2 separate regions of the Homo sapiens genome follow, and region 2 is linked to region 1. The links come from fine-mapping of genetic effects on plasma protein levels. A gene starts in region 1. The other region holds a variant in brackets. All regions are shown on one strand. Distances are between the middles of the regions. Region 1 holds the start of NT5C (5', 3'-nucleotidase, cytosolic). Region 2 overlaps JPT1 (Jupiter microtubule associated homolog 1).

Evidence for each region. PIP is the chance, under the fine-mapping model, that this variant and not a neighbour inherited with it causes the effect. The UK Biobank Pharma Proteomics Project read protein levels with antibody pairs (Olink). The fine-mapping took linkage between variants from a reference panel, not from the people measured, so its PIPs are less certain.
Region 2: its variant is fine-mapped to the plasma level of the NT5C protein (UK Biobank, PIP 0.98).

The regions. Positions count from the first base shown.
Region 1 is chr17:75,131,325-75,138,101 of GRCh38, forward strand. NT5C (5', 3'-nucleotidase, cytosolic) reads right to left here and starts at 418. Exons shown (of 5, transcript NM_014595.3): 1 at 210-418. The coding sequence starts at 383. JPT1 (Jupiter microtubule associated homolog 1) reads right to left here. Exons shown (of 5, transcript NM_016185.4): 5 at 3,924-4,926. The coding sequence ends at 4,778. It overlaps LOC107985034 (a long non-coding RNA gene), which reads left to right and starts at 4,926. Exons shown (of 2, transcript XR_007065907.1): 1 at 4,926-6,777. RefSeq lists a silencer at 11-580.
Region 2 is chr17:75,138,493-75,145,469 of GRCh38, forward strand. The region is part of intron 4 of JPT1 (Jupiter microtubule associated homolog 1); the gene reads right to left. It overlaps LOC107985034 (a long non-coding RNA gene), which reads left to right. Exons shown (of 2, transcript XR_007065907.1): 1 at 1-2,384. Among named protein-coding and RNA genes, the nearest start is that of NT5C, 10 kb to the left of the region's middle. The variant G/A (reference allele first, on the strand shown) is at 6,354.

The DNA of each region.
Region 1 (6,777 bases):
GGACCCGCAGGGAGGCTCCTGGGGGCTCCGGGCCCGAGCTCAGAGGGGCGGAGGGGGCGTCGGTCAGGGGCACGCGCCCAAAGGCTCCTCCCCAGGGTGCGCTGCCCGCGGGTTCCAGGGTGAGAGCTCTGCGCCCTTCACAGAGAAGGGGGAGACCCCCGGAACGGAGCGAGCGGGCCCTGCCCGGGTGGGGACCCTGCGCCCCCTACCGCCAGGTCGGGCCGCAGGGCGCGGTACTGCTCGCGGGCCAGGAAGCCGCGGCGTTGCTCCAGCGGCACGTGCGGCTCCTCAGGGAAGCGGCGGCGGAAGCCCCGCAGGAGGCCGGCCTCGAAGTCGGCCAGGACGCCGTCCATGTCCACCAGCACGCGCACGCTCCGCGCCATCGCCGCCGGGCCGGAGCTGCGAGCTCTCGGGGTCTGGGGGGCGCGGGCTCGGCCGGAAGCGGAGGGAGCGCTGCTTCCGGAGTCCGCCGGGCTGATTTGCATAGAGTGTCCGGGCCGCCCCGCCCAGGTCGTAAACCAGTGCCGACGGCCCTGCGGTTGCGCGAGGCCATCCTAGGGTTCGGGTGCAGGGACGGCTTTGGGGGGCACTTTTCTGACCCTGCGCTTCTTCGGGACCCAGCCTTTGTCCCCATCAGCCGCCTCCCACTTTACGGCAGACGTACCCCCGTTCACCCCACGTTACTAGTAGGGGACCGACCTTCCGGGGGCCCAACAAAGGGATGCTCTGAAATACTGGGAAGCATCTAACGAGGAGTCAAGGGTCCTAAACCCGTGGGGCTAGCTCCACATTTTTTTTCTTTTTTTCTTTTTTTTTTTTTTTATTTTGAGACGGAGTCTGGCTCTGTCGCCCAGGCTGCGGCGCAGTGGCGGCGCGATCTCGGCTCACTGCAGCCTCCGCTTCCCGGGTTCAACCGATTCTCTTGCTTCAGCCTCCCGAGTAGCTGGGATTACAGGCACCCGCCACCACGCCTGGCTAATTTTTGTAGTTTTAGTAGAGACGGGGTTTCGCCATGTTGGTCAGGCTGGTTTCAAACTCCTGACCTCAAGTGATCTGCCTGCCTTGGCCTCCCAAAGTGTTGGGATTATAGGCTTGAGCCACCGCACCTGGCCAAAGTCTTATTACCGCAGTACCGTGGTCTCAGTGGATTGCTTTCGTCTGTGCAGTGGAGCAGGAACAATCCCTCGAGGACTACAAAGTGAAATGAATCTGTTAACTGGTTTGTGTAAGTCTAGCTCGTTAAGAGACTAATTCACACTAGAGTTGGCTTGAAACATGGGAGCTTCAAGTGTGGTTTCCCCCGGAAAGATGATTTTGATCAAGCACAGGTAATCAGGACTGTCCTCAGGACTTTATGTGGAACTGACATCGCTTACCTACTCCCGTCTAGAAAATGCTGAACAGGGCCAGGTGCGGTGGCTCACGCCTATAATCCCAGCACTTTGGGAGGCCGTGGCGGGCGGATCATCTGAGGTCGGGAGTTCAAGACCAGCCTGACCAACATGGAGAAATCCTGTCGCTACTAAAAATACAAAATTAGCGTGGTGGCACATGCTTGTAATCCCAGCTACCCGGGAGGCTGAGGCAGGAGAATCTCTTGAATCCAGGAGGCAGAGGTTGCGGTGAGCCGAGATCATGCCATTGCCCTCCAGCCTGGGCAGCAAGAACAAAACTCCTTCTCAAAAAAAAAAAAAAAAAAAAAGAACATGCTGAACTGTGATACATTTTGTTGACTCTTCTTTTTGTGGATGTCATGAAACTTCCTGACTCCACTCAAATCTATTTGCCTACAAACTATAAAGCCAGGCGCCGTGGCTCAGGCTGGTAATCCCAGCACTTTGGGAGGCCCAGGTGGGAGACAGCTTGAGCCCAGGAGTTCAAGACCAGCCTGAGCAACACAGGGAGACCCTGTCTCTACAATAAACAAATCAATAAGCTGGGTATGGTGGCGCATGCCTGTGGTCCTAGCTACTCATGAGCCTTAGGTGGGAGGAACCCTTGAGCCCAGGAAATTGAGGCTACACAGCCTTCATCCTGCCACTGCACTCCAGCCTGGGTGACAGAGGGAGTCCCTGTTGGGGGAGGGGAGAGCCAAAATTATAAACACAGATTTAAGTGGCCCATCTCGCCATTGTTCCCCATCTGATGAACCCACTGCTTCCAAATATATGTAACAGAGGCTGGGCACGGTAGCTCACGCCTGTAATCCCAGCACTTTGGGAGGCTGAGGCGGGCGGATCATGAGGTCAGGAGATCAGGACCATCCTGGCTAACACGGTGAAACCCTGTCTCTACTAAAAATACAAAAAAAAAAAAAAAATTAGCTGGGCATGGTGGCGGGTGACTGTAGTCCCAGCTACTCAGGAGGCTGAGGTAGGAGAATGGCATGAACCCGGGAGGCAGAGATTACAGTGAGCCAAGACCACGCCACTGCACTCCAGCCTGGGCCACAGCGAGACTCCGTCTCAAACAAACAAACAAACAAAACATGTAATAGAAGCATCACACACACAAAAAAACCTGACAGGGCCGGGTGCAGTGGCTCACGCCTGTAATCCCAGCATTTTGGGAGGCCGAGGCAGGTGGATCACAAAGTCAGGAGTTCGAGACCAGCCTGACCAACATGGTGAAACCCCATCTCTACTAAAAATACAAAAACTAGCCGGGCATGGTGGGACATGCCTACAAATCCCAGCTACTCAGGAGGCCAAGGCAGGAGAATTGCTTGAACCCGGGAGACAGACGTTGCAGTGAGCCAAGATCATGCCACTGCAGTCCAGCCTGGGTGACAGAGCCAGACTCCATCTCAGAAAAAAAAAAAGCCTGACAAACCAGTCTAAGAGGGGCTCAAGTCAACATGCATATGACTCATAGATACGCAGACATTTTGGAGGCCCAGACTTGCGAGTTATCTCAAGGGGAAGCAGTCTTGGGGGCTGAGCCCTCAACTTGTGGAATCAAAGCTATCTCCAGGTAACTGATTGTCAGAATTGAATTGGAGGGCCAGGTGAGGTGGCTCATGCCTATAATCCCAGCACTTTGGGAAGTCGAGGTGGGCAGATTACTTGAGGTCAGGAGTTCGACACCAGCCTGGGCAACATGGCATAAACCCTGTCTCTACTAAAAATACAAAAATTAGCTGGGTGTGGTGGCACATGCCTGTAGTCCCAGCTACTCGGGAGGGTGAGGCAGGAGAATCGCTGGAACCCAGAAGGCAGAGGTTGCAGTGAGCAGATTGTGCCACTGCACTTCAGCCTGGGCGACAGACTGAGACACTGTCTTAAAAAAAAAAAAAAATTGGAGGACACCTAGCTGGTATCCACTGCAGAATTGCTTGCTTGCTTGCTTGCTGGTGGGGAGAAATCCCCGCATATTTAAAGTTGGAGAACTTTTTTTGAGACAGGGTCTTGCTGTCACCCAGGCTGGAGTACAGTGGTGCGATCATGGCTCACTGCAGCCTTGATCTCACAGGGTGAAGCAATCCTCCTGCCTCAGCCTCCCGACTACAGGCGTGTGCCATCACACCTGGCTATTTTTGGTAGAGACGAGGTTTCACCATGTTGCCCAGTCTTGGAGAACACTTTAAAATGTTACTGCCCAGAACAAAGGGGAGGTAGAAGAGTCTAACCTGCTCATCTTTAGAGCCTTCTTCAGAAAGAAACCCACTCCTCTCTGGGTCTTCATCTGTTTTAAGATTTTGTTTTTTAAGGAGGTCTCGCTATGTTGCCCAGGATAGTCTCAAACTCCTGGGCTCAAGCATCCTCTTGCCTTGGCTTCCCAAGTAGCTAATTACAGGCACATCTGGCTATTTAACTTCAAATGACTCCTCCAATCAGTAGGCAGGATTTATAGTGACAAAGAGAAAAGCATCTAACCAGGGAGAACACTGAAACCATCTCAAAAAGAAGACACAGTACACAGTGTTTCAAAATGTGGATATTGTTTACTTGAAGCAACAGTCCAGGATTGTGAAGTACAACACATTTTAAGGATGAGACTTTCCTTTCATGGTCAAGCACCAGCATCATGCACACAGCATCAGGTTATTTAAAACAACACGCCTGTGGGACCCCGTTCCTGGAGGAAGACCCGCTTCAGTGTGATTGCCTCCCTTGCTTCACTGCTTTTAGTTCCAGGCAGTTTCATTGTACATCCAAGCCTTCCTCTGCGTGAGAGCAAAGGCTTTGCTCATCAGCCAGCCAGTCTTGTTACTATCTGGCTACTTTTTAAGGTTAAAAAATAAAAGGCAGTTTCTTTGCTTTGCAGGCGGCAAGGCAGGAGGCGCAGGCCTCTTCATTGTTCACATGTCACAGGAGGAGGCTCTGAGCAAAGGCCACTGGCAAGTTAGGGCAACACCAAGAAGGCTCTGCGGAGAGACTCCCTGTGGGTTGGGGCCTGGCAGGAACGGTGCCTGTGGACTGTTTATGGTCTGTCCAGTTGAGGCTTGGTAAACCCAAGTAAAGTGTTAAAAACCTCAGTACAAAAGATCCTCTAACACATCTGGAACCAAATTATTTCTTCTTAAAAACACAGTACTAAGTGTCACAAAGCTTTCCCTCCAATCTACTACTAGAAAACACTCATGCCATGGCCCACAGACCCAAGAGTCAAGGACAGAGAGAAACCTGTTCTTCAAAAGAAAAAAAAAAAAGACAGCAGTACATAAAGTGCTTCTTTTTAATGAAACAAATCCAAGAGATGTACAGTCAGGCTCAAGTTGTGCAGTTCACAAGCATGGAGGAAACAGACAGAACGACAGCGTTCAGGACAGTCAGAGCTAACCCAAGACGAGGCTGGACTTGCCGCCAGGGGGATTTCTTCTGGATGGCACTGGGGCCGGGGCCACCGGGCTGGGCACAGGCGCAGCAGGCACGGGCTTCTCTTCACTCTGCCCCAGGCTGCCTGGCAAGTCTGTGTCCACATTTTCTATGAAAACAGGGAATAGAAATAATACTCATAATGACAGCCATTTCCTGTTAAGATCAAGGATCTGTTTCTCTTTTTCTTTTTTTTTTGGTTTGATGGTTGGAAACATACCTAAAAGCATAAACAAAATAATCACCCACCATGCTCCCACTCCACAGAATTAACCATTGTTCATCTTTTCCCATATTTGTTGTTTATGTTCTTTTCTAAATTACACAAATATATAAGGACATGAAGTTTTTTTTTGTTTTGTTTTGTTTTTTGACGGAGTCTCGCTGTTGCCCAGGCTGGAGTGCAATGGTGCAGTCTTGGCTCACTGCAACCTCCACTTCCCAGGTTCAAGCAATTCTCCTGCCTCAGCCTCTCTAGTAGCTGGGATTACAGGCGCCTGCCGCCATGCCCGGCTAATTCTTGTATTTTTAGTACAGATGGGGTTTCACCATCCTGGCCAAGCTGGTCTTGAATTCATGACCTTGTGATCCACCTGCCTCGGCCTCCCAAAGTGCTGGGATTACAGGCGTGAGCCACCGCGCCTGGCCCAAGGACATGAAGATTTTTAAATAAGAACAGGGAACTCTAGCTCTACGGCCCCTTCCAGCTCCGGGTGGATCCTGCTCCCCCTATTCCCAGAGGTCCCACTGCAAGTCCTGTGCAGCCTTCTAGTCCACTTGTTTTATGTATATTTACATGTAGCCAGATAACATGTAACATGTTTTGGTTATATTTAACATAAATGGTATCAACTTCTTTTTTTCACTCTTGGAAATGTATCCATATTTACAAACAGGGTAGTAATTCGCCTTGCTTATTAACTGTATGTTTTCAAATCCCTCACCTCACTGTCAAGCTTCATTGCTTTATAGTAATTATCACATGATATAGGCTATTTATCCAATTCTCTGACAGCAAAAAAACTGGAACCCATCCAATTTTCCAAATGAATTGTCTCTCATTAGGGTTGTTTCTAAACCGGGAAAAAACTGATTCAAAGTGCAAAGTGAATGCAAAAATTCTATATTTTCTATGAAAGGAAACTTTTACTAAGAGCTTAATAGTATACATATTTTTAGTTTTTTTGTTTGTTTGTTTTTTGTGGAGGGGTGGGGTGGCAGGTGGAGGATATTGAGACAGGGTCTCACTCTGTGGCCCAGGCTGGAGTGCAGTACCTCAATCACAGCCCACTGTAGCCTCAAACTCCTGGGCTCAAGCAATCCTCCTATATCAGTCTCCCAAATAGCTGGGACTACAGGCGCGCACCACCACAACTGGCTATTTTTGTTTTTTTTTTTTTTTTATTTTTAAAAGATGGGGTCTCCTTATGTTACCCAGGCTGGTCTCAAATTCCTGGACTCAAGTGATCCTCCCATCTCACCCTCCCTAAGTGCTGGGATCACAGGCATGAGCCACCTTCACCCTTCACACAGCCTAGTTTTCCTTTTTTTTTTTTTTTTTTTTTTTTTTTGAGACAGGGTCTTTAACCTCTGCCTCCTGGGTTCAAGCAATTCTCCTGCCTCAGCCTCCCGAGTAGCTGGAATTACAGGCATGCACCACCATGCCTGATTAATTTTTGTATTTTTAGTAGAGACGGGGTTTCGCCATGTTGGCCAGGCTGGTCTCAAACTCCTGGCCTCAAGTGAGCCACCTACCTTGGCCTCCCAAAGTGCTGGGATTACAGGCATTAAGCCACTGCACCCGGCCTAGTTTTCCTTTTTTTTCTTTAGTTGAGATGGAGTTTCACACATGTTGTCCAGGCTAGAGTGCAACAGTGCAATTTCGGCTCACTGCAACCTGTGCCTCCCGGGTTCAAGCAATTCTCCTGCCTCAGCATCCCAAGTAAGTAGCTGGGATTAT
Region 2 (6,977 bases), 7.3 kb after region 1:
CCGCCTCCCAGGCTCAAGCGATTCTCCTGCCTCAGCCTCCCAATAGCTGGGGTTATAGGCGCCCGCCACCATGCCCAGCTAATTTTTTGTATTTTTGTAGAGACCAGGTTTCACCATGTTGGCCAGGCTTGTCTCAACCTCCTGACCGCAAGTGATCCACCCACCTCAGCTGCCCAAAGTACTCAGATTACAGGCGTGAGCCACCATGCCCGGCCAAGAAGAGGTCTTTAACACTTACTCTCAATTCATGTACTTATCTCATGATAGGCTAGAAGCAAACAAACCTCCCTCTTCTGTGGCTGCAGTATTTCTCATTGGACAGACATTTATTTTATTTATTTATTTTTCATGCTTTGTTAATGTTAACATACTACTGCTGCTTTTAACATTTCATGAATTTCTGGAACATTCTATGGGAGTAACATAAAATGTTCTATACTATTTAACTACAAGCAAAAATAGAGTATGAAGCTTTTCAGAATGACAACTGTCACAATTATGAACTAAAACTCAGAGAGGGTCACCCATTAGTTTCCTTGGTTACATCCATTGTAAAAGAAGCAAGATCAAATGCACTGGATCAGACACACAAGTCCTACAATAAGTGTCCCTGAAATAACCTAAATATAATTGTAAATATAAAAGAAAAACAAAACTCCACATTTAAAATATTCAAGATAAAGAGAATTCGGACTGAGACAACTTGTTAGTTCAAGCAGTTTCATTTCTGCTGGTGGGACATGGCCTCCTGCTATACATACAGGATCTACTGAAGTCTTCATTCTCTCTCTGAATCCAGCAGTTAATGAACATTCTGAAGAACAAAAAATTATCTTGCAGTCCTGCCATAGTGGTTTATTTTCATAAAATCCTCTTCAGATGAATCAAGCTCAATACTACTAATCTTATATTTGTCTTACATTATTACTAGAACTGTTTTGTTTTTCACAAATACATAACATACTAATAAAGAAGAAGAAAAAAATAAAAAAGCACCTATGGAGACTAAACAAGCAGCAGTAGGCCTTACTTTAAATGTCTGTCCAGGCCAGGTGCAGTGGCTCACACCTGTAATCCCAGCACTTTGGGAGGCCAAGGCAGCTGAATAACCTGAGGTCAGGAGTTTGAGACCAGCTTGGCCAACATGGTGAAACCCCGTGTCTACAAAAGTACAAAAATTAGCTGGGCGTGTGTGCGCGCCTGTATTCACAGATACTCGGGAGGCTGAGGCAAGAGAATCACTTGAACCCGGGAGGCGGAGTTTGAAGTGAGCCAAGATCGTGCCACAGCACTCCAGCCTGGGCGACAGAGTAAGACTCCGTCTCAAAAATAAATAAATGTCTGTCCAGTCAGAAGTACTCCACCCACAGAGGAGGGAGGTTTGTTTGTTTCCAGCCCATAATGAGATAAGTACAGGAATTGAGAGTAAGTGTTCAGAAACTTTGATTTATTTTTTCAGATGGAGTCTCTCTCTCTTGCCAGGCTGGAGTGCAGTGGCGCAATCTATCTCCACCTCCCAGGTTCAAGCGATTCTCCTGCCTCAGCCTCCCAAGTAGCTGGGATTACAGGCGCGTGCCACCACGCCTGGCTAATTTTTGTATTTTTAGTAGAGACGGGCTTTCACCATGTTGGCCAGGATGGTCTTGATCTCTTGACCTCATGATCCGCACACCTCAGCCTCCCGAAGGGCTGGGATTACAGGCATGAGCCACCGCGCCCAGCCAAATGTTTAGAAACTTTTATGCCAATTTGACACAGAAAGCTTTTGTCTGCTGAAGATAATTTAAAAAAAAAAAGGGCTTTAAATGAAATTATTTCTACCAAAATATACATTTTAGACACTCCTGGTCTCTTTTCTTTGGCACATCAATAAGATAACTGAACAAAGACATCTCTATCTGAATAGAAAATGATTCATTGTAAGCATCAAAGAATCAGAACTGGAAGAAATGTAGCCGACCATCTAACTTGCCCGCAGTCAGGGAGACTTCTCTGCCTGAACTTCCTGGACCTTCTCCCTCTTAGATTTCTCAAGATGGAAACTCCAAAGTCATTCCTGTAGCCATTCCTGCGTTTAATTGCCCAAGAGGTAAAATAAATTTCCCGTATATCCAAAGGGAATCTATCTTATTTAAACTGAATTGGGGTTGACCTTTAATCCTCCAGATGTATCTTATTACTGTACCTCAGCCAGGCACAGCGGCTCACACCTGTAATCCCAGAATTTTGGGAGGCCAAGGCAGGAAGATCAACATGAACCCAGGACCAGCCGGGGGAAACATAGCAAAACCCTGTCTCTACAGAAACTACAAAAATTGGCCAAGCACGGTGGCTCACGCCTGTAATCCCGACACTTTGGGAGGCCAAGGCAGGTGGATCACGAGGTAAGGAGTTCGAGACCGGCCTGGGCAAGATGGTGAAATCCTGTCTCTACTGAAAACACAAAAATTAGCTGGACACAGTGGCGGGCACCTGTAATCCCAGCTACTCGGGAGGCTGAGGCAGGAGAATTGCTTGAATCAAAGAGGTGGAGGCTGCAGTGAGCCAAGATCATGCCACTGCATTTCTAGCCTGGGCAACAGAGCAAGACTCCATCTCAAAAACAAAACAAAAACAAAACCACAAAAATTAGCCAGGCATGGTGGCATGCAACTGTAGTCCCAACTACTCAGGAAGCTGAGGTGAGAGGATGGCTTGAACCCGGAAGTCAAGGCTGCAGTGAGTGGTGATTGTGCCACTGCACTCGTGGTTCAGGCAACAGTGAGAACCTGTCTCAGTAAAGAAAAAAATATTATTGTGCCCCTTTTCATTTTAAGACAGATGAACTAAAGTTGCAGCAGTCAGCCACACAGAATATATCAGATCAGAAACTTAAAAAGGCCGGGCACAATAGCTTACACCTGTAATCCCAGCACTTTGGGAGGCCAAGGCAGGGGGATCACCTGAGGTCAGGAGTTTGAGACCAGCCTGGCCAACATGGTGAAATACTGTCTCTACTAAAAATACAAAAATTAGCTAGGCATGGTGGTGCATGCCTGTAGTCCCAGCTACTCGGGAGGCTGAGGCAGGAGAATCACTTGAACCCGGGAGGCGGAGGTTGCAGTGAGCCGAGATTATGCCACTGCACTCCAGCCTGGCGACAGAGTGAGACTCTCAAAAAAAACAAAAAGGAAAAAACAACAACAGGTAACCAGATAACCACTGGGGGGAAAAAGAAAGGACTTAGGAGTTTGCGACCAGCCTGGCCAACATGGCGAAAACTCCGTGTCTGCTAAAAATAAAAAAAATTAGTTGAGCGAGGCTGGGCGCAGTGGCTCATGCCTCCCAGCGCTTTGGGAGGCCAAGGTGGGTAGATCGCTTGAGGTCAGGAGTTCGAGACCAGCCTGGTGAATATGGTGAAACTCCGTCTCTACTAAAAGTAAAAAAAATAGCCAGCTGTAGTGGCGCACACCTGTAGTCCCAGATACTCAGGAGGCTAAGGCGGGAGAATCGCTTGAACCTGGGAGGCGGAGGTTGCCTTGAGCTGAGATCATACCACTGCACTCCAGCCTGGGTGACAGAGCAAGGCTCTGTCTCGAAAAAACAAAAACTGTGAAGGGGACTGAAAAGGGAACAGAATTATTAATTATGTGGTAGGACTATTGACACATTGTTGACATACTTCTCCAAGTTCCCCTAACTTCTAGTTGTATTAACTGACCAAAATAATTGAATAAAGATTAGCTGATTCTTGTTAAATAAGGTCTGACAGTGAAAGTATTCAGAATATAGAAAGCAGTAGAACCGGCCGGGCCTGGTGGCTCACGCCTGTAATCCTAGCATTTTGGGAGGCCAAGGCAGGTGGATCACCTGAGGTCAGGAGTTCAAGACCAGTCTGGCCAACATGTTGAAACTCTGTCTCTACTAATAAAAAAAAAATTAGCCGGGCGTGGTGGCAGCCCTTGTAATCCCAGCTACGCAGGGAGGCTGAGGCAGGAGAATCACTTGAAACCGGTAGGTGGAGTTGCAGTGAGCCGTGATCGTGCCACTACACTCCAGCCTGGACAACAAGAGCTAAACTCCGTCAAGGGGGGAGGGGAGGGGAGAGGGAGGGAGAGGGAGGGAGGGAGGGGAAGGGGGAGAGAGGAGGGGAGGGAGGGGAGGGAGGGGAGGGGGGGATGGAGGGAAGGGGGAGGAAGGGAACGGGAAGGGATGAGAAGGGAGGGGAGGGGAAGGGAGAGGAGGGAAGAAGGAAGGAAGCAAGAAGTGGAATCAAAAAACCTAGATTTTACCTCCAGAAGTCTTTCCAGAACAGTACAAATAGAACACAAACAGTAATTAATACATACATCTTCGGTCCAATGCAAAAGTAACTGGTCCTGTGATATTATGATATACATACGTATATGAAAATACACACACACACACACAAAATCTGTTTTTGTCCACAGCTACTGGCTGGTAACTCCCATAGCCCTTAAAAGTCTTTTGAATGGGGTGCATTAAGCCTCAGGAGCAGCCCTCAGGAAACAGAATCTCTTTGTGACCTCCTGTCCTCCTTTTACCTGCCCAGGGCAGGACTGTAATCTGATGGCAGGTCAAAAGACCCTTAATCCAGAGGGTCCTGCTCCATACCCTGGAGGAGGGAATGCTACATGGAGAGGCCAAGAAGAATCTAACAGACGGGCCTTCTGAGTTCCCTTGTTCAGTCCATTGGTATGAAATCAAACCTTTTTTGTCTAATCGTATTTCTGTACAGTTGTCAATCATGCTTATGTAATGAAGCCTCCATAAAAAACCAAAAGGGGCCAGGTGTAGCGGCTCATGCCTGTAATCCCAGCACTTTGGAAAGCCAAAGCAGGTGGATTACTGGAGGTCAGGAGTTCAGTATCAGCCCGGCCAACATGGTGAAACCTCGTCTCTACTAAAAATACAAAATTAGCCAGGTATAGTAGCGTGCACCTGTAATCTCAGCTACTCAGGAGGCTGAGGCAGGAGAATTGCTTGAACCCAGGAGGCAGAGGTTGCAGTGAGCCAAGATCATGCCATTGCACTCCAGCCTGGGCAAAAAGTGTGAAACTTGGCCAGGCATGGTGGCTTACACCCATAATCTTAGCACTTTGGGAGGCTGAGGAGGGTGGATCACCTGAGGTCAGGAGATCAAGACCAGCCTGGCCAACATGGCGAAACCCTGTCTCCACTAAAAATTAAAAAATTACCTGGGCATGGTGGTGCATGCCTGTAATCTCAGCTACTCAGGAGGCTGAGGAAGGAGAATCGCTTGAACCTGGGAGGCAGAGGATGCAGTGAGCTGAGATGGCACCACTGCACTCCAGCCTGGGTGACAGAGAGTGAGACTCCATCTCAGAAAAAAAAAAGAGCGAATCTCCATCTCGAGAAAAAAAAGAAAAACCCAAAAGGGGCTGGGCACAGTGGCTCACTTTGGGAGGCAAAGGTAGGAAGACTGCTTGAGTCCAGGAGGTTGAGGCTATAGTGAGCAATGAGATTGTGCCACTGCACTCTAGCCTGGTTAAGACCAAAACCCAGTCTTAAAAAAACACCCAGAAGGATGGATTCTGAGGACTTCTGGATAACTGAACATGTGGAAGCTGACAGGAAGGTGCAACAACTCATCCATGTGCCAGGAGGGTGGCACACCCCAACTCCAAGGTACAGGAGCTCCTGTACTTGGGACCTTTCCATACCAGGCCCCAAGTATCTCCTCACTGGGCTGTTTATTTGTATCCTTTCAAATATCCTTCGTAACAACCCAGGTACAGTGGCTCATGCCTGTAATCTCAATACTTTTGGAGGCTGAGGTGGGAGGATCACATGACTGGCCTGTGTAACATAACATAGTGAGACCACATCTCTACAAAAAAAGAAAAAAAATTAGCCAGGCATGGTGGCATACACCTGTATCCCAGCTACTCAGGAGGCTGAGGCAGGAGGATTGCTTCAGCTCAGGAGTTTGAAGTTGCAGTGAGCTGTGAGGGTGACACTGCACTCCAGTCTGGACAACAGAGCAAGATTCAGTTTAGAAAAAAATAAAAAAAAATGTATCATATATTCATAATGAACCTGTAAACATAAGTGTTTCCCTGAGTTCTTTCTGTGAACCTCTCTAGCAAATTAATCAAAACCATAGAAGGGGTCACAGGAACCCCAATTTGAAGCCAGTCGGTCAGAAGTTCCAGAGGCCCAGACTTACAACTGGTGGGAAGGAAGGGGCAGTCTTGTGGGACTGACCCTCAACCTGCTGAATCTGAGGTTATCTTCAGGCAGAGGGTGTGGAAACTGGATTGGAGGACTCCCAACTGGTGTCCACTGATTGGCGTGTGGGGAGAAACCCCCCATATTTGGTCACAGGTGTC[G/A]TCTTCTGTGTTGATGATTGTTGTGGTGTGAAAAAAAGAGGAAAAACACGTTTGAGTGTTTTCCCCCTAAACAGGTCCTATAAGGAAGAACCCAGGCAATGCTCCCAAAGGCTCAGGAGCTTCTCCTCTAAGCCCACCAAGAAACACTGTGAGGCCGGGCGCAGTGGCTCATGCCGGGCATGGTGCCGCGTGCCTGTAATCCCAGCTATTCAGGAGGCTGAGCCAGGAGAAGTGCTTGAACCCGGGAGGCAGAGGTTGAAGTGAGCTGAGATCCTGCCACTGCACTCCAGCCTGGATGACAGAGCCAGACTCCATCTCAAAAAAAAAAAAAAAAAAAAAACACAACCAAAAAAACAGAACACTGTGTGAGAAGGCAGGAGAGGAATCTGCTTCTTCAACCTTTCCGTGTGTCCTTGTAAGCACACCACAAAACATAAGGGTAGGAAAAGGCCTTAAGAGGAAGCTGCTGCTTCTGTCTAGACCAGAGGGCCTTGTGACTGCTGCACTTCACTGACTGCTACTGCCTGACACTTACAAACCTTGCACTCATCGGCAAGTCTTTAGCACTTGTTACAGAAATGCCAATAAATACCTCCAAGATTTAAGATAATTAAGTCAATGATT